2 separate regions of the Homo sapiens genome follow, and region 2 is linked to region 1. Evidence: fine-mapped expression QTL. Tissue or cell type: gastroesophageal junction. Region 1 holds a variant in brackets; the other region holds the start of a gene. All regions are shown on one strand. Distances are from middle to middle.

Region 1 (10,731 bases):
AACCTCTAATTCTATATCTACCAAAAATACCTTTCAGGAATTAAGAAGAAATAAAAGCATTTCAGATGAAGCAAAATAATAATTGGTTGACTGCCCTTCAAGACTGACTCACAGAGCATCTCTGACTGAAAAGGTAATAGGCTGGAACTTCGAAAAGACAGAAAAAACTGTGGAGTGGGTTAAAATTGGGGTAAATGTAACAGACTACCTTTCTCGTGAGTTTTTAAAATCATGCTCAATGGTTGAAGCAAAAATTTTAACATCATCTGATGTGAGACTTAAATGTATATAGAGGAAAGACTTAAGACAATTATAGTAAAGAGTGAAAGGGCCAGGTGCAGTGGCTCACACCTGCAATCCCAGCACTTTGGGAGGCTGAGGTGGGAGGCTTGCTTGGGGCCAGGAGTTTGAGACCAGCCTGGGCAACATAGTGAGACCCTGTCTCTAACAGCAAGAAGAAGAGTAAAGGGACCTAAATGGAAGAGAGGTTTTTACACTTTAGTCAAAGTTGTAACATATCAATACCTGTAGATTGTGACATTAGGCATATATATCATACTACCTATTGAAACCACAAAGCTATATTCAAAAATACTTTCAATAGCTAAAAACTGGAATTCTAAAATAAGTTCAAGTAGCCCACAGGAAAGCAAGAAAATGGAAAAACAGTAATAAGCAGAAGGAAGAAACAGAAAATAAAAAATAGAAGTCCCACATAATGCTTATGTATAAAAAATAAAAGTCCCACATAACGCTTATGTATAAAAAATAAAAGTCCCACATAATGCTTATGTATAAAAATAGGAAACACACAGACACACAAGTATATATCACTGTGAGTATACTGTAAATTCTTGTTTTTTCTTCTTTCTGTTTCTTAAATATACTAAGATAATTCTCACGAGTTACTCCTCTCTGCTAGAACACTAGTATTTCCACTCAAATTCACCTTCTTAAAAAGACCTATTAAACTACCAATTATATGTTCACCATTTCGGTAATGGCTATGCTAGAAGCCCAATCTCCACCAGAATGCAATATACCCAGGTAACAAACATGCACCAAGTACTCCCTGAATCTAAAATAAAATTAAATTTAAAATTTAAAAATTAAGGCCGGGCATGGTGGCTCACGCCTGTAATCCTGGCACTTTGGGAGGCTGAGATGGGTGGATCACTTGAACTCAGGAGTTGTAGAGCAGTCTGGCCAATGTGATGAAACCCCGTCTCTACTAAAAATACAAAAATTAGCCGGGTGTGGTGGTGCACACCTGTAGTCCCAGCTACTCGGGAGGCCGAGGTGGGAGAACTGCTTGAACCTGGGAGGCGGAGGTTGCTGTGAGCTAAGATCGTGCCATTGCACTCCAGCCTGGGTGACAGAGCAAGACTCCGTCTCAAAAAAAAAATTAAAAATTAAATAAGCTTGAATAAGATTTTTAAAAAACTACCAGTTGCAGTTTTCCTCACATTTAAATCAATCTGTATCATATTACCCTGTTTTGTTTTATCATAGCATTTATTCAAATATTTAAAAGTATGTATATATAATTAAAAAGTGTATGTATATATACATACACTTTTATATACATATATGTACATATTTACATATATATATATATGTCTCTTGTTAAAATATAAACTCTGTGACAGAAGAAATCTTTTCTTACTGACTTTCACCCTATTGCGTGGAACATTATAGGTAGTACATGGTAGGTAAAGGTTCATAAAATATGTTTTGAATTAGTATATTCAATTTTTTTTGTAAACGTCTGTGCACAGTTTCATTGTATACATTTTTCATAAATTAGCCAATAAAGACTTACAGGAGACAGTTTTACTTTCTATAACCTTAAGTTTTATGCAAGTGAAATCTATGTTTTATAGTTATTCTCCTTAGTGTATGTTTTAACATTTTTTTCACCCACATTATAGATATTAATATAACTATATATAATGTTTTTACTTTTTTTGAGACAGGGTCTCACTCTGTCACCTAGGTTGGAGTGCAGTGGTGCAATCATGGCTAACTGCTGCCTCAACCTCCCAGACTCAAGTGATCCTCCTACCTCAGCCTCCCAAGTAGCTGGAACTACAGGCCTATGCCACCTTGCCCAGCTAATTTTTATTTTTTGTAGGGACAGGGTCTCCCTATGTTGCCCAGGCTGATATCAATTCCTGGGCTCAAGCAATCCTCCCACCTTGGCCTCCTAAAGTGCTGGGACTACAGGTGTGAGCTACTGTACTGTTTCTTATGTGCCAATTGTAGAATTATCCTTTCTGGCATTTGTCTTTTTTAGTGTGATATAGGGATGCAACATTATTATTTTGTACAAACTGCTTGGTTGTAGGTCCAAACAACATGTATTGGATAAAACGTGCTTTGAGCTGGACATAGTGGCTCATTCCTGTAATCCCAGCAGTTTGAGAGGCCAAGGCAGGAGAATCACTTGAGGCCAGGAGTTCAAGACCAACCTGGGCAACATAGCGAGATCCCCATCTCTACAAAAAATAATTAGCCAGACATGGTAGTGTGCATCTGTAGTTCTAACTACTTGGGAGGCTGAGCCAGCAGGATCACTTCAACACAGGAGTTGAAGGCTGCAGTGAGCTATGATCGTACCACTGCATTCTAGCCTGGGTGACAGAGTGAGACCCTATCTCTAATAATTAAATTGGCTGGGTGCGGTGGCTCACGCCTGTAATCCCAGCACTTTGGGAGGTTGAGGCGGGCGGATCACCAGAGGTTGGGAGTTTGAGACCAGCCTGGCTAACATGAAGAAACCCTGTCTCTACTAAAAATACAAAATTAGCCGGGCATGGTAGTGCATGCCTGTACTCCCAGCTACTCAGGAGGCTGAGGCAGGAGAATCACTTGAAACCAGGAGGCGGAGGTTGCGGTGAGCCGAGATCGTGCCATTGCACTCCAGCCTGGGCAACAAGAGCGAAACTCCATGCCCCCCCCAAAAAAATTAAATTAAACTGAATTTTAAAATCAAATTGTTTTCAGTAGCCTAGAGAACACATAGAGGATGCTTCTCTTCAATAGGGCTCTGCCACATGAAGTCATCTCTGGATGTATTTTTAAGAATAAGGATATATATATATGATCTCTCTATATTATATATATAAGATCTGTATATAGAGAGATATAGATATAAGAATAAGTATATATATATCCCCCTCAAGGTTCTTTTAATGACTCATTTTCTCCTTTTCTCTGATCCTCAGTTTATAGCTTCAGCAGCAGAGATCAGAAGAGATCAGCCTAAACATTTCTTAAAATGATATTGTGAACACTAGTGTATAAGTCTTTGGAGACACATGTTTTCATTTTCCTTGGTAAATACAGAAGAGTAGAATTGCTGAATCATATGGCCAGCATATATTTAACTTTTAAGAAACTGCCAAACTGTTTTCCAAAGTGTTTTTTTTTTTTTAATTCCCACTAGCAACGTCTGAGAGTTCTGGTTCCTCCACATTATTGCCAGCACTTGGTATTGGCAGTGTTTTGTTTAGCCATTATGATGGGTGTAATGTGGTATCTCAGCTTTATTCTTCATAGCCGAAAATCTGAAACAACCCAAATGTCCACCAACAGGTGCACAGACAGACAACTGGGTATATTCATACAAAGGAATAATCAGCAATAAAAAGAAACAAACCGCTGATGCCCACACAACACGCACAAATCCCAAAAACACCAGAGTGGAAGTAACCACACAAAAACAAATACTTTTTGCATAATTTCCATTTATATAAAATTATAGAAAAGATAAAAATAATCTATAGTATTAGAAGGGAGATTGGTGGTTACCTGGGGTCAGTGATGGGAGTGAGATTTGACCGGGAAGAGAAACAAGGGAATATTTTGGAGTAAAGGAAATGTTCTACATCTTGACAGGAGCTGTGGTTGCACAGCCAAAGACATTTTTCAAAGCTCATAGAACTTGAACTATACATTAGAAATATGTACACTTAGCCAGATGTGGTGGGGTGTGCACCTTAGTTCCAACTACTAGGCAGGCTGAGGCAGGACAATCACTTCAGCATAGGAGTTCAAGTCCAACCTAGGAAACATAGCGAGACCCAATCTCTAAAGAAAAAAAAGAAAAGTAAGTATACTTATTTGTATGCAATTTTTTTTGAGACAGAGTCTCGCTCTGTCACCCAGGCTGGAGTGCCGTGGCACAATCTCGGCTCACTGCAACCTCCACTTCCTGGGTTCAAGTGATTCTCCTGCCTCAGCCTCCTGAGTAGCTGGGATTACAGGCACCTGCCACATGGCCAGCTAATTTTTTGTATTTATAGTAGAGACGTGGTTTCACCATGTTGGCCAGGCTGGTCTTGAATTCCTGGCCTCAAGTGATCCATCTGCCTCAGCCTTGCAAAGTGCTGGGATTACAGGCATGAGCCACCATGCCTGGCTCTATGCAAATTATATCAATAAAAATTCTAAATGTTTTGAAGAAATAACAAGAATTGATAGCAGTGGCTCAAGCCTGTAATCCCAGCACTTTGGGAAGCCAAGGCAGGCAGATTGCTTGCACCCAAGACTTAGAGACCAGCCTGGGAAACATGGTGAAACTCATCTCTACTAAAAGTTATTC[G/C]GGCATGGTGGTGTGCACCTGTAACCCAGCTATTCGGGAGGCTGAGGTGGGAGGATCACCTGAGCCTGGGATGTCGAGGCTGCAGTGAACCAGAGCTCCACTGCACTCCAGCCTGGATGACAGAGTGAGACCCTATCTGAGAAGAAAAAAAAAGCAAAGCAAATAAACAGACTAAAATTTGTTAAAGGAATATTTAAAACACAGCGTGTCTGACCCCACAGAAAGCAACAGTTGAACCAGAGATGGTGCGTGGGCCCTGTGGAGAACAGATCTGAAATTTTTTTTTTTGAGGCAGAGTCTTGCTCTGTCGCCCAGGCTGGAGTGCAGTGGCGTGATCTCAGCTCACTGCAAGCTCTGCCTCCCAGGTTCACGCCATTCTCCTGCCTCAGCCTCCCGAGTAGCTGGGACTACAGGTGCCCACCACCATGCCCGGCAAATTTTTTGTATTTTTTTTTTTAGTAGAGACGGGATTTCACCGTGTTAGCCAGGATGGTCTCGATCTCCTGACCTCATGATCCGCCCGCCTCAGCCTCCAAAAGTGCTGGGATTACAGGCATGAGCCACCGCGCCCGGCCCAGATCTGTAATTTTTATGTAAGAAGTAGCAAGTACCGAAAGTGGCCTAATAATACATATATGTGCTCGAAGATTTAAGGGCCTGACATTTATGAAGTTTTTAGTTCAGTGAATGGAGGAATGCTAAGACATCCCTTTAAGGGAAAAGGCAAGTTATTGCTATTTGTACCCCACACATGCAGAGATAAAATGCTTGGTAGACCTCGTTGGATTTGGAAAGCAGCATAGAACACACTTGGAAATTCTATTCTAACAAATAGGCCTCTTGATGGATCCCAAGTTGTACAGTGTGTGCTTGTGATGCAACTGCAAGGTCCATTTTCAAAGATACCTTGTTTCTTCTATATTTTGGGTTCTCAAAATAAGGTAAGACATTCACAAGCTGTTCATCTATTTTGGCCTTTAAGATCCCTGATCAGTTAACCACTTCCAAAGGTTTATGTAGGTTTAACAATTCTCATCACCATTATGACCATGAACCTCCTGCACTAACCATGCCTGTCTTGCTCCTTGTGAGTAAATTCTGCTGAGAACTGTTCCATTGCAGAACCTATCATCCCCTTTGACATCAGGAATCTCATTTTAATGACAGTATCTATAACACATAACTATACCCACATTTTTACATGAGGCTGGTTCTCCCTTCACCAAGTAATTTCTCATGGTGAAAGAACTGTCCTCTGGCCCCTGTTGGGGGTCAAAATCGGAGGAATGAGTGAGTGGGTTACTTATGACAAATCTATATTAACAATATTTCCTTAAATCCTTAGATTTATGCGAAGAAATTTTTGACATCTCTATTTTACCTTAATATTGGCCTCTGTCAAGTCCAGCTTTCAGCTAATCAGCTAAGTAGAAACAAAGATACAAATAGATCAATAAAACCAAAGTCTTGTTTATTGTAAAAGCTAATAAATAAACAAATTTTGCCAAGATATAACAAGAATAAAAGTAAAAAATAAATATTATTAATGAAAAAAAGCAATATAACTACAAATACAGAAGAGATTCCAAATTTGGGGTTTTTTTTGAGATGGGGTCTCACTCTGTCACCCAACTAAGGTTCAGTGGTGTGTTCATGGCTCACTGCAACCTCAAACTCTCAGGCTAAAGCAATCCTCCCGCCTCAGCCTCCCAGGTAGCTGGGACTACAGGCAAGCACAACCACACCCGGCTAATTTTTTTAATTTTTTGTAGAGATGGAGTCTCACTTGTTTTTTTGCCCAGGCTGGTCTCGAACTCCTGGACTCAAGCGATCCTCCCACCTTGACCTCCCAAAGTGCTAGAATTACAGGCATGAGCCAGCATGCCCAGCTGAGATTTTAAAATCAGTAGGAACATATCTGTAATTTCATGTCAATAAATAGATATAATTAGTAGGAAAAAATCTACAAAAACGTCCTCAAGAATTGATAAAGCAGTGTGGAAAAACTGTGACTTACATGCTATCTTTTGTGGTAACTTGCTGGATTTTTATACGGTTTGTCTCCAGTCCTCTAGAATGCATGTGGTGTCTCCAACCTGCTGGCCACTTCCTACCTATCCTGCCTGACTGACATGACTTTGCTGCCATGTGTATTACTGTGATGTTCTATAAAATGTTCAGTCTATTCAGATTATATTATGATGGCTGACAGCCCTGGGTAAAACTGTGAATGCACAGTATTGTCTGTCTCATGTTAATGCTACATTTTCTGATCCTTTTTCCTGAATTGAATAAAAAGAATTGGTTTTCCAAATCAAAGGCCACTGCCACATACCCAAGGCCACTTAAATCTGCCTTAGAAACAATGTCATGTCTGCAAGTGGGACATGGACTTGGCTGAGCTCACCTGTAGTCATTCCCTAGGATTTGTTAATATCCCAGGGGCACTACTACCACATTCTTTAGGTCTTTACGAGTCGCACTCATCTCTGTCACCCCCTCCAACTCTTCTCCCCAAAATGCAATATTGTTTTTAATTTATGATCTTACCTTCTGGGTGGGATTCAGAGGTTTTCACCTGGCCTTCCCCACTATAGTGGCTTTTAACCAAAGACCAATAGTCCAATGTAGAAAGTACTCCAACTGCCAAGGATGTCAATCCCAATTATACATTCGAAGACCAAGCAAATGAGTAATGCATGGGTCAGGGTCACTGGGACCATTGGCCCCACAGTAAGCCTAAATGTATGACCAGGCCTAAATACGCTCTCATGCTGGCGGAGGCATGATAATGCTATGAAAGTCTGGTATCAGTATCAACTCAGACTTTGCGTATAATAGTCTTTAAAATCTCTGGATATTACCCTTTACCCAGTGTATAATGAACCAAGTAAGTGCCCATCAGTCTTTGACGAAGGGCTGGAGGTGTCGTCACAGTATATATTTGCCGTGGTGTCATAGGGTCTTTCCCCTTGGGGACCCACCTACCTCTTTAGTGTCTTTCTGATCTGAATATTAGCTCAAGTTCAAGGATCATGGCATTTTACTGAGGCAACTGCCCTTAGCCTCTTGCTCACCCATTCTCATCTTCTTGGACTATGTTTACTAACAAATTTCCTGGTTGCCTGTCTTATCTAGTTTATCCTTGGGGAAGTTATGTTTTACTAACCATCTTCACAAGTTCCTGTGAATCAAACCCTCTTGGCTGTCACACTGACCTTACTATTTATTATAATAAATGTGAATCCCTGGCTTCTGCCAATTAAGACTCACCACCCGGCCTTTCTTCCTTCAATTGTGGGATCCTTACAGGTGCATTACTCCAAATACCTTTCAAGAAAATACTTCCCATTCTCCTGGAGGGATTCATTGCTTTTGGGAGTTAGCACAGTATTTGAGACTGTGACCTTTTCAGGCAGCTGCCAGCCAGTGCGTGAGCACCATGGGGGATAGGATGGCCTGGCATCATTTCTGCTCAGTGTGGAACTCCTCTGTGGTAAATATTTGTGCTTGCATTTTACTTTGAGCTGACAAGAAATATCCCATTCCAGAGAGACTCTGGCAAACGTGGCAGCCCAGCTGCTACATATTTCACTGGCAGTTACCTGGGAAAATGTCCAAATGGAGAAAAACACCTGGTTGGTGTGATGACCCAGGCACTTAAAAGGTACGGAAGGGGGCGGGTGCGGTGGCTCACGCCTGTAATCCCAGCACTTTGGGAGGCCGAGGCGGGCGGATCACAAGGTCAGGAGATTGAGACCATCCTGGCTTGTAGTACAGGTGTGGGGAGTTAGCAGACAGCCCTCGCCTGTCAAGCCCTTCATGGTCAGCCTTTGCTGCAGAAGAGCTTCATCCAAAGTCACCTCCCTTCCAGGTCAGGCTGTATTCAGTGACTGAAAGAGGTGTGAACATAGACTAGACCATGCTTGCCTGACACATGAGCCCTGTCAGGCAACACTCACTACAGAGATCCATTCTAAGTTGGGAGCAGTTTTGTAGGATCTGCATTGCAGTTTAACCTTTTCTTTTGCTTAATCCTACTTCCTTCTCTTTCCTTTCACAGATACTGATCTACAGTGAATACCTCCAAAGTATATCTCAGAGTCAACTTTCAGAAAACCCAACAGATTGCAGCTTGTACCATTATTGAGGTGCTCCAAAATAGCAAAGGATGGGCCAAAGTTTTGGAACTGGATTACTCATTATCCAGCTGACATACAAACCCCACCACTGTGGCAGGTGGAGCACAAAGAGGCCCCGGCATAAGGAGGTGGTTCAATCATTAAATAGTTCACCAATAGTAAATTAAGAGGAAGCACCTGTGTTATGTAACAGATGTTTGAACTTAGGAGATAGATTATTATTAAATAACAGGTTTGGGTGCTGATATGTTTTGGCTGTGTCCCCAGCCAAACCTTATCTTGAGTTGTAGCTCCCATCATCCCCCCGTGTCGTGGGAGGGACCTGGGGGAAGGTAATTGTATCATGGAGGTGGGTTTTTCCCATGCTGTTCTTGTGGTAGTGAATAAATCTCATGAGATCTGATGGTTTTATACGGGCAGTTCCTCTGTACACGCTCTCCTGCCTGTCACCATGTAAGACGTGTCTTTGCTCCTCCTTCATTGTGAGGACTTCCCAGCCATGTGAAACTGTGAGTTCATTAAACCTCTTTTTCTTTATAAATTACCCAGTCTGTGGTATTTCTTTATAGCAGTATGAGAACGGACTAATACAGTGGCTACTGCTGAAAGCCACTGATGCTCTACATAAAGATAACAAACAGTTGAGGACAAGTAATAGACAATTGATTGCAGTTGTGAAAGTTAGAGGGCCTTTGGCTGCACAAAAAGCAGCTCACATCTGCTGTATCACAAGTGGTTATTAGGTCCTTGCTTGCAGGAAAAAAAAACTATTGCATGAGGAAAGGCCACGTGGAAGCCTCAAACTACAATCCACCCAAGATAGTAAATAAGAACAATCTCTGGGGGGATAGTAGAGATTAGAGACACCCTTCAGGATATAAAAGATTTAGGAGTGATGGTTCCCATCATATCTCTAGTAAAAACTACTCATAACTGCAATTCAACTTCAAGCTCAACTAAGTAGTAGTCCTGATCACAGCCATTAGGCCAGATGTGATATTTCCACTAGAAGAGATTAATACAGCCTCAGATACATGGTATATGGCCACTGATCCAGTAAATGCATTTTAATATCCCGATTCAGAAAAAAGCATAAATGTTTGCATTCATATCAAGTGAAATGATGTGGGCAATGAAATGAACAACATACACGGCCGGGCACAGTGGCTCATGCCTGTAATCCCAGCACTTTGGGAGGCTGAGGCAGGCAGATCACGAGGTCAGGAGATCGAGACCATCCTGGCTAACATGGTGAAACCCCATCTGTACTAAAAATACAAAAAATTAGCTGGGCATGGTGGCAGGTGCCTGTAGTCCCAGCTACTCGGGAGGCTGAGGCAGGAGAATGGCGTGAACCTGGGAGGCGGAGCTTGCAGTGAGCCGAGATCGTGCCACCACACTCCCGCCTGGGCGACAGAGTGAGACTCTGCCTCAAAAAAAAAAAAAAAAAGAAAAGAAAGAAAAACAATGTACACAAAATGGACAATGATATAACTAGTTTTGCTCCCAGAGCAATATTAACTCTCTCAACCTCAGAGCTGTGGTTATGGGAAGCACAAGGTCCCCCTAGAGGATCATCTGTGATCTTCCTGCTTCCACACTGCAGTACCCAAACCCATGTGTTCTTTCTCTTTGAAAACACAGCACCGTATAAAGGTCAAACATCAAGGATTAGCCCCAGAGGGGGCACTTTCCACCTGAGGACAGAGTGTTCTAAATTATAAACTACAGATACAGCATGGAACTTTGTACCCTTGTGTCCAAGGACCAGCATGCCAGAAAAGCCACTCTTTGCTGGGGCATTGACACTGATCATCAGCAGGTATGGCTGCTGTTACACAACAGGGCAGGAGAAAAAAGGAGTGGAACTCAGGTGGCCCTCCTAGGTGCCTCTTTGAACTTCCTTGCCCCATTGTGATGTAAGTGGACAAATACAGCAACTTGGATCTGAAAAGGACATGGTGGCCAGGGCTCTGACCCCCT
Region 2 (10,731 bases), 110 kb before region 1:
CTCTTGGGAAATAAACAGCCACTCTAGGACTTTCTCTATTCTGCGACTCTTCTGCTTCTGCCTGGGTGTTCCAGGGAGAGGTTGCAGACCAGGAGTCCCTTGGCCCAAGATGGATTCCTGACCTTGGAGCTTTCTGATCCTATCCCATGAACTGTTTCGTTCTTGGAGAGGTGGGACCTGTGGACTCAAGAGCAAATTTACTTTAGCGAGCATTATTTCCTTTGGGGAAAAGGAAATAGGGGTCACATCACATAAATGTGAGAGAAACACGTTAGAAAACAAGGCAGGTTTAACTTCAGGAAATGCAGGGTTAGAGGCAGAAAAGAAATGGCTTCCTGACAAGGCTTAGCACCAAGAGTTCAAGTCAAGTTTTGAGCCCTTCATGATAAAAATACAGGTACGACCCTCAAACAGCAAAGCTAGAGAAAACTGTCCTGGCTCATCCTAGCCTCCAAACGGACTTCCTGCCACAAACCAAATGGCGTCTTAATAGGCTGGTTTGGTAGGGCAGTAGGAATACCCACACAACATTATTATGAGGGAATAAGGAACCAAACGAGGCTCTGACAGACAATAAAAACATAACCAAAATATCTGACCACATAAAAAATTGTAACATAATATTTCAAAATGAAGTAAAAGAAATCAGAAAAACGAAACTTTGAAAGGACAGATATATAAAAAATAAAAGAGCCTAGAAAGTAGATGCTTAGAAATGTGAAATCTGGAAAATGTGAAATGAGAAATATCAGAATAAATAAATAAATTAGGAAAAAAATTCAGAAATGAAGATTAAATTTAGGAGGAACATAAAAAAGCGCCAACGACCTAGAAGGCGGCACAGGTGAAAAGTGGGGAAAGCCTAAAAAAAAAGGAATAAAAAATTAGAAAAAGAAACAATGAATGAAATGCCATGAAAAGGCTGTTCACCAAGGCATTTTTATAACCCAAATATCTGTAACTACATAACTGGTTGAAAACACTATGGGCCATCCATACAGCCAGTAAAAGGTGATAAGAGATAGGGAAGAGGGAGCGAACAACCTCTATGTACCACTATTGGTATAATACAATGATCAATATATACTCTTAGTGATAATGACAAGGGGAAGAATAGTACGTACAGAAAGCTAGCTTTTGTGTTACAAAAAAGAAGTGGGATTGCAAGTATACGTATACGCATGTGTGTGCCATATAAATGGGATCATATAATATCTAGTCTTTTGTGTCTGGCTTCTTTCACTTCGCATAATGCTTTCAAGGTTTATGCTTGTCATAGCACATATCAATAGTTTGTTCTTTTTGTTGGTGAATAGTATTCCATCACGTTTCATCATTCACCATTAATGGACATTAAGATTATTCCCTGGAGGCTGGGCGCAGTGGCTCATGCCTGTAATCCCAGAACTTTGAGAGGTCGAGGCAGGTGAGTTGCCTGAACTCAGGAGTTCGAGACCAGCCTGGGCAACACAGTAAAACCCCGTCTCTACTAAAATACAAAAAAAAAATCAGCCAGGCGTGGCAGCGTACACCTGTAGCCCCAGCTACTTGGGAGGCTGAGGCAGGAGAATTGCTTGAACCTGGGAAGCAGAGGTTGCAGTGAGTGCCACTGTACTCCAGCCTGGGCAACAGAGTGAGACTCCATCTCCAAAAAAAAAAAAAAAGATTATTCCCTGGAGACCAACAGCTTATGTCTCAGAGCCTTCTCTGTGTACACTGGGCACAGTCTACCCGCTCCACATTTTACTCTACATTTCAGGGTCTAGGATCCTAGAATCTCTGCCTCAAGAAATCCTCAACCTACATCCAGAGACTAAATAAGGTACACAGGCCAGGAAAATGCATGTAGAGCCAGAATATCTGGGTTCAAGTCCTGGCTCTACATTGACCAGGGGTGCCACCTGGTCTCCAACTAGCCCTTTCTGGACCTCAGTACCCTTACCCATCAAAGGAGAAAAACAGTATTCACCACCTGGGGCTAGGGCTACTGTGAAGTTTTAAGGTGATAATACCTAATAAATGATTTAGCACAGAACCTCATACGTAGTAGACACTGAGCATTAACATTTGGTTGAAACGGCAAAAGAAAACAAAACAAAACATAAAACCAGGAATACTTAATGAAAATAAACCACACTACAAAATGACAATCAACAAGATAAAAAGCATATGCTGGTTCTTAGAAAAGAGGACTCCACCTTCAAACATCCCCCAACTCTGACCAGTGTCTCCATTTCTACCACACTACACAAAATCCCTGCTACCTCTTGTCTGAACGTGGTCACCTAGTCAGTCTCTGGCTTCCCCCTCTTTCTGTGCCTACTCTTGCCCACCTACAACCTGTCCCCCACTCAGCACTCAGAAGGGTCTTTGGAAACCCTAAGCAGCTCACGTTGCTCCCTGTCTTAGCGCCACACACTCTCCCGGGCCCCATGGCTTCCCAGCCTGATCTGGCCTCTGCACCTGTGTTCATCTGCTCTCCTCTCTCTCACTCCCTACCCCCAGTCACAAAGTCCTTCCTTCCAGGTTACCTGATCTGGCCTCTGCACCTCTGTTCATCTGCTCTCCTCTCTCTCACTCCCTGATCTGGCCTCTGCACCTGTGTTCATCTGCTCTCCTCTCTCTCACTCCCTACCCCAGTCACAAAGTCCTTCCTTCCAGGTTACCAAGGCATCAAACTTCTCTTGCCTCGCAGCCTTGGCCCTGGCTGTTCCCATCCTGGATGTTCTTCTACCTGCTCTTCCCAAGGCTGGCTTGCTATTGTAACTCAGACTTAGCTTAGACGTCACTTCCTCAGTGGGGGCCTTCCCTGAGCACCCAAGCTAAAGTAGCCACCACACATTCTTTGTTTTTTTTTTTTTTTTTGAGACAGAGTCTCACTCTGTCGCCAGATTGGAGTGCAGTGGCGTGATCTTGGCTCACTGCAACCTCCTACTCCTGGGGTTCAAGCGATTTTTCTGCCTCAGCCTCCCGTGTAGCTGGGATTACAGGTGCCCACCATCACGCCCAGCTAATTTTCATATTTTTAGTAGAGACGAGGTTTCGCCATGTTGGCCAGGCTGGTCTCGAACTCCTGACCTCAGATGATCTGCCCACCTTGGCCTCCCAAAGTGCTGGGACTACAGGCGTGACCCACCACACACAGCCCATCACCACTAAATTCCATTTAGGTTTTTATGACTGCTACGGTTTCAATGATTGCATCCCTCCAAAATTCATGTTGAAACTTAACCCCCATTGTGATGGTATTAAGAGGTGGGGCCAATTAGCTGGGCATGGTGGTGCGCACCTGTAATCCCAGCTACTCAGGAGGCTGAGGCAAGAGAACCACTTGAACTCGGGAAGCAGACGTTGTGGTGAGCAGAGATAGCCACTGCACTCCAGCCTGGAAGACAGAGCGAGACTCAGTCTCAAAAAAATAAACAAATAAATAAATAAATAAAGAGGTGCGGCCTTTTAATAGTGATTAAGTCATGACGGCTCTCCTTCAGGAATGGGATTAATACCCTCTTAAAGAGGTTTCAGAGAGCTGCCTGGCCCTTTCATCTCTTTGGCCATGTGAGGACACAGCATTCTTCCCTTTTTGCCCCCTTCCACCATGTAAGGATGTAGCAAGAAAGTGCCATCTTGAAAGCAGAGAGCAGAGCCGGGTGCGGTGGCTCACGCCTGTAATCCCAGCACTTTGGGAGGCTGAGACAGGTGGATCATGAGGTCAGGAGATCGAGGTCATTGTGGCCAACACAATGAAACCACGTCTCTACTAAAAATACAAAAAAAAAATTAGCTGGGCGTGGTGGCACACGCCTGTAGTCCTATTTGGGAGGCTGAGGCAGGGGAATCACTTGAACCCGGGAGGCAGAGGTTGCAGTGAGCCAAGATCGCGCCACCGCACTCCAGCCTGGGGACAGAGAGAGACTGTCTCCAAAAAAAAAAAGAAAACAAGAAAGCAGGCCTCATCAGATACCAAATTCACCAGCACCTTGATCTTCAACTTGTCAGCCTCCAGAATTGTGAGAAAGTAGTATCTGTTATAAGTTCCTCAGTCTGTGATATTTTGTTACAGTAGCACAAACAGACTAAGACAATGATCTAATATTACTTGATCTCCCTCATACATGTCACTTGACAAGCATTTTTGAGGTTTCCATTTCTTTAAGTGTGAATTACATGTCTCTATTTTGTCTTACTTTTCTTGGGTTCCATCTCAGTCTTCAACACCTCTTCCCCTGCTTTCTCTTGTCATTTCCCTGACCACTGTCCTCAGTTCTCTTCTTAGGGTACACATTCTCCCTGAGCTACTTTGGCCACACCTAATTTGCAACCTCTACCTAGAGGAGCCAATCCATACAAAACTGAAATCTTCCCCCTCTACCAATCACAATTCTGACAGTCTTCCCTTACTCAGCAAATGGTGACACTCCCAACCAGGCCCACAGAGTAGAACTCCAGTTGTCATCCCTGGCTTTTCTGCCTCTCTTAGCACTGCACCCAACTAGTTATGAAATCTAATTTCTTCTGCCTCTTTACCTCCTCTCCTTTTTTTTTTTTTGAGACAGAGTCTTGCTCTGTCACCCAGGCTGGAGTGCAGTGGCGCGATCTCGGCTGACTGCAACCTCTGCCTCCTGGGTTCAAGCGATTCTCCTGTCTCAGCCTCCCGAGTAACAGGGATTACAGGTGGGAGCCACTGCACCCAGCCACCTCCTCTCCTTTCTCAAAACCACTAATTTACTTAAACCCTTATATTCTCTTACCTGCTGCAGACTAGACTGTTCTACCCTCAAATCCGTTGTGAAAACACTTCAATAAGTAAACTCCTTCCCCTATACCAACAGTCCCCAACCAGGGACTCGTTTTGTGGAGGACAATTTTTCCATGGACGGGCAGTCGGGTGCGGCGATGGCTTCTGGATGAAACTGTTCCACTTCAGATCATCAGGCATTAGAGTCCCATAAGAAGTGCGCAACCTAGATCTTTCGCATGCGCAGTTCACAATAGGGTTTGTGCTATGAAAAGCTAATGCAGCCTCTGATAGGAGGCGGGGCTCCGGCAGTCATGCTCACTAAACCGCCACTCGCCTCCTGCCATGCACCCCAGTTCCTAACAGACCACAGACTGGTACCAGTCTGAAGCGTGGGGGTTGGGGACCACCTGCCCTATGTGATACAATCCAAGTTTTTAATGGGGTCCTCAAAGCCCTCTATGATCTTAGGCCTACGGCTCTAGCCTCATTTTTTAATATAACTCTACTATCACCATTAAACTCAACATTTTAGCAACCCTAAAGTGCCCAAAGTTCACCACATGAGGTCATTTCAAGCCTCTCAAATTTGCACGTTACTTCTTTTTCCTAGGCTGGTTTTAATCCTTTGTCTACTTTAGGTTTGTCATCTTTCAAACCTAAGGTTAAGAATCTCTTAATCATTGAAGCATTTGGGAGTAAGGGGTTAGGGGGTGTCCTTACTTCCAAAACTGACCCATTCCTGCATGTCTCCGTGTATTTCCACAGCCTGCTCCCAGAGCACTCATTAACTTGTCATTGTCTTTCTTATCCACCATTCCTAGACCACTGTTCTTCAAGACAGGGATGATAAGCAACCCATCTTTGCATTTTTAGCACCTGCCCCAGGGTCCAGCAAACAAAATACAATAAAAAAAAATGTTGAACAAGTGAATAAAAAAGTTTGTAATTTCCAAAATAAGGTTTAAAGATCCCAGATACAGAAGGCCCTCAGTAAATAAAGGCTGAAAAAACTGAAAGATGTGTGAGTATCCCTTGTTTAACTCCAAAGTTCAGCGTACAAAGTTGTTAGAAAAGAGATTGATGAAAGGAGGAAAAAAGGAAGTCGGATGACAAGAAGCATTTCTGGAAAGTCTAACATGCTATAAATGACGATCCAGTTGCCTAAAAGAGCGGTGGGGTGAGAAAGCTCCTGGCAAATTCAGACTGGAGTAGATGGAGTGCGCACACGTTGGCATTCAGGGAGAGCTTTTCAAGAATGAAAGAAAACCCCTACTCACCCAAATAGAAGCTGTCCGGACCCTGGTGGCCATCCCTACGGTCAGTTTTGTGTGCCTCGCTGGAAGTGACAGGACGCGAGGGATGCTAGAAGAGAGAGCACAGTGAAGAAAGAGGTCACCCAGCAGTCCCCAAACCCAGAGGGGGAGGGTCCGAGGCACCAGGGCTGCCTGCCATTCTCGGAGCTGAGGCTCCTTCCCTCCCACAGCACGGGATTCACCATCTCCACACCCTCACCAACACACAGGTTAGGGTCAGGCAACCGCCCCGGGTCAGCAGCAGGAGAGAGCTAAGGCAGATTAGTTCTGTCCCGTCCCGCCGCCTTGAAACCGGAGGAATTCCGCACCTCCGGCTCCTCCAAACCCTGAAGGGGCAGCAGAATAGAGTCCAGGGTACTGCCTCCACCTCCAGATCTGCAGCCAGAAGGGTTCGCAACCACTCCAGACTCGGCTGGCCCGTTGACCACGACGGGCGATGAACGCTATCTGAGGAACAAGGATCTCGCCATCGGCGCGGAACAATGGCGGCCGCTACGTATGTCGCACAGGAATTGCGTCATGGAGAGGCAAAGGCAAAAAAACTACAACTCCCAGAGGCCTCTGCGAGGAGTTACTCCCGCGCCGGAGGGCTCCGGCCAAGGGCCACCGGGAGGGGGCGTGCTAAGATGACCCGGAAGCTCAGGCCTTCCTGGCCAGGTCCCTGAGCTCCCGCGCTTGCAGGTTTTAAATTTTAAAGAGAATTAAAATACTTGACACCAATGGCTCAACGGTTGGAGGGATGTAAATTAGGTTACAAGTGTTCTAGTCCCTGCTTTACTGAAATGGTAAAAGTCTTATTTTGCTTTACACTTTAATAACAGATTCGTAAAATTCCCATTACATGTTAACATAAATAATATTTTAATGAAAATTACATATATTTTACAAAAGAAAAAATTTAGTAAGGAGTGGCTTCGCTTTTTAAGTCTTTTCTGACTTACTAGAAAGCTGGATTCTCATATCTGCTTCTATGTTTAATCTGTTGCGTATGTTGTTTTTGTTAAAGTATATAAAGATACAAGTCGAACAAGGGATAGTTTTGTTAGTGTACAATCTGAAACCACGTAGATGAACTTTTTCTACTCTATTACATAAAATCCGTTGGTCTACACTGCACTTTGAATGGATTCTTTTATCACGCATGATTTCGTAACATCATGTATTGGCCAGTTGGAAAATATTGGTTTACTTTAATGGCAAAAGCCGCAATTACTTACTTTTGCACCAACGGAAAATATCCACTAATCATTATTGATCTTAAGTATTGGGAAGAGGTGACATTCACAGAGGCAGATACAAGTTTTCTAGAATTCTTTTGTTTTTGGCTTTTAAAAACTTTTATAAATTTATGAGGTACAAGTGTAATTTTGTTACATGCATCAGTTGTGTAGTGGTGATGTCAAGGCTTTTAAGGTATCCACGCCCTATAGTACGTTATATGCATTGTACCAGTCAGGTAATTTATGATTATCCCTGAAACCCCCCCACACCTTTTGAGTCTTCATTGTCTATCATCCCACACTCTACATCCATGTGTACATATCCTTTAGCTCATACTTAAAGTGAAAACATGTGTTTTTCTTTCTGTGCCTGAGTTGTTTCACTGAAGATAGTGGCCACTAGTTCCATCCATGATGCTGCAAAAGACAATTTCATTCTTTCTTATGGCTGAATAGTATTCCATTGTGTATATATAACACATTTTCTTTATTCATCCATTCATGGACATTTAGGTTAATTCCATACCTGTGATATTGTGAATAGTGCTGTGATAAACATATGAGTGCAGGTATTTTTTTTATATATATAATGATTTCCTTTGGGTAGATACTCAGTAACAGGATTGCTTTATCAAATGGTAATTCTATTTTTAGTTCTTTGAGAATTCTCCACACTGTTTTCCATAGGTTATACTAATTTCACTTTCTCACCAACAGTGTATAGGAGTTTCCTTTTCTCCACATCCTCACCAACATCTTCTTTGTCTTTTTATTTTTATTATTTTATTTTATTTTTTGAGACGGAGTTTTGCTCTTGTTACCCAGGCTAGAGTGCAGTGGCCCGATCTCGGCTCACCGCAACCTCCGCCCAGGTTCAAGCAATTCTCCTGCCTCAGCCTCCTGAGTAGCTGGGATTACAGGCATGCACCACCACACCCGGCTAATTTTGTATTTTTAGTGGAGACAGGTTTCTCCATGTTGGTCAGGCTGGTCGCAAACTCCCGACCTTAGGTGATCCGGTCACCTCAGTTTACCAAAGTGCTGGGATTACAGGCATGAGCCACCGAGCTCGGCCTGTTTTTGTTTGTTTTGATTTTTTTTTCCTTTTGAGACGGAGTCTCGCTCTGTCGCCCAGGCTGGAGTGCAGTGGCGCGATCTGGGCTCACTGCAAGCTCCGCCTCCCGGGTTCACGCCATTCTCCTGCCTCAGCCTCCCAAGTAGCTGGGACTACAGGGGCCCGCCACCACGCCTGGCTACTTTTTTGTATTTTTTAGTAGAGACGGGGTTTCGCCGTGTTAGCCAGGATGGTCTTAATCTCCTGATCTCGTGATCTGCCCGCCTCGGCCTCCCAAAGTGCTGGGATTACAGGCGTGAGCCACCGCACCCGGCCCGGCCTGTCTTTTTAATAACAGCTACTGTGACTGATGTAAGATAATATCTCTTTTTTTTCCCCCACAACCTCGCTCTGTCGCCCAGGCTGGAGTGCAGTGGCTTGATCTCGGCTCACTGCAACCTCCGCCTCCTGGGTTCAAGCAATTCTCCCCGCCTCAGCCTCCCAAGTAGCTGGGATTACAGGTGCCCACCACCATGCCCGGCTAATTTTTGTATTTTTTATGAGAGACGTGGTTTCGCCATGTTAGCCAGACTGGTCTTGAACTCCTGATCTCAGGTGATCTGCTCACCTCGGCCTCCCAAACTGCTGGGATTACAGGCGTGAGCCACAGCGCCCGGCCTCATTGTGGTTTAAATTTGCATTTCTCTGATGTTTAGTGATGATGTTGAGCATATTTTCATATGCCTGTTGGCCATTTGTATGTCTTCTTTTGTAAAGTGTTATTTGTGTTCTTTGCCTGCTTCTTAATGGGATTATTTGGGTTTCGTTGTTGTTGTTGATCTGTTTGAGTTCCCTGTAAACTCTAGATATTAGTCCCCTCTTGTATGCAAAGCTTGCAAAAATTTTCTCCCATTCTGCAAGTGTCTCTTCACTCTGCTTACTGTTTATTTCACTATGAAGAAGATTTTTAGTTTAAGTCCCATTTCTCTCTTTTTCTGTTTGTTGCATGTGCTTTTGAGGTCTTAGTCATGAATTATTTACCCAGACCAATGTCCAGAGGGGTTTTCCGTAGGTTTTCTTCTAGTATGTTTATAGTTTCAGGTATTCCATTTAAGTCTTTAATACAGCTTGAGTTGATTTTTGTATATGGCGAGAGATAAGGGTCAAGTTTCATTCTTCTGCATATGGCAATCCAATTTTCCCAGCACCATTTATTGAAGAGGTTGTATTTTCCCCATGCTTGTTCTTGTTGACTTTGTCAAAGATCAGTTGGCTGTAGATATGTGGCTTTATTTCTGGGATCTCTATCTGTTCCATTGACCTATGTGTCTGTTTTTATACCAGTACTATGCTGTTTTGGTTATTATAGCCTTATAGTATAATTTGAAGTCAGGTGAAGTTATGCCTCCAGCTTTGTTCTTTTTGTTCAGGATTGCTTTGGCTGTTTGAGCTCTTTCTCGGTTGCATATGAATTTTAGGATTTTTTTTCTTTTTCTTTTTCTTTTCTCTTTTTTTTTTTTTTTTTTTTTTTTTACACAGAGTCTCACTCTGTCACCCAGGCTGGAGTGCAGGGTCATGATCTCGGCTCACTGCAACCTCTGCCTCCCAGGTTCAAGCAATTCTCCTGCCTCAGCCTCCAGAGTAGCTGGGATTACGCGTGTGCACCACCATGCCCGGCTAATTTTTGTATTTTTAGTAGAGATGGGTTTTCACCATGTTGGCCAGGGTGGTCTTGAACTCCTGACCTCATGATATGCCCATCTTGGCCTCCCATAGTGCTGGGATTACAGCTGTGAGCCACCGCACCCGGCCTAGGATTTTTTTTCTCTAAATCTGTGGAGAATGACGTTGATATTTTGATAGGGAGTGCATTGAATCTGTAGATGGCTTTGGATAGTATGATAATTGTAACATTATTAATTCCTCTGAACAGCATGGGATGTTTTTCCATTTGTTTATATCATCTACAATTTCTATCATCAGTATTTTGTAACTTTCCTTGTAGAGAGTTTTCACCTCTTTGGTTAAATGTATTCTGAGGTGAGCTTTTTGTAGCTATTAAAAGTAGAATTGCCTTCTTGATTTTGTTCTTAGCTAGATGTTGTTAGGGTACAGAAATGCTACTGATTTTTTGTTTTGATTTTGAATACTGAAGCTTTCCTGAATTCATTTATCAAATCTAATACTTTTTCAGTGGCATCTTTAGGTTTTTCTAGATATAAGATTATATCATTTGCAAACAGGGACAATTTGACTTCCTGTTTTCCAATTCAGATGCCTTTTATTTCTCTTGCCTGATTGCTCTGGCTAGAACTTGCAGTACTATGTTAAATAGCAGTAGTGTAAGTGGGCATTCTTGTCTTGTTCCAGTTCTTGGAATGTTTTCAACTTTTCTCTCATCAG

What was found. PIP is the estimated chance that this variant, and not a neighbour inherited with it, causes the effect.
Region 2: it holds the start of ZNF268, and the variant in region 1 is fine-mapped to the expression of ZNF268 in gastroesophageal junction (GTEx, PIP above 0.99). The same link has a PIP of 0.9 or more in esophagus mucosa, left ventricle, prefrontal cortex, stomach, transverse colon and visceral fat.

What each region holds. Positions count from the first base shown.
Region 1 is chr12:133,064,048-133,074,778 of GRCh38, reverse strand. No RefSeq gene overlaps it. Among named protein-coding and RNA genes, the nearest start is that of ZNF140, 12 kb to the left of the region's middle. The variant G/C (reference allele first, on the strand shown) is at 4,607.
Region 2 is chr12:133,177,318-133,188,048 of GRCh38, reverse strand. ZNF268 (zinc finger protein 268) reads right to left here and starts at 6,554. Exons shown (of 6, transcript NM_003415.3): 1 at 6,363-6,554; 2 at 6,019-6,103; 3 at 1-177. The coding sequence starts at 6,051. RefSeq lists enhancers at 6,167-6,366, 6,407-6,716, 6,312-6,836.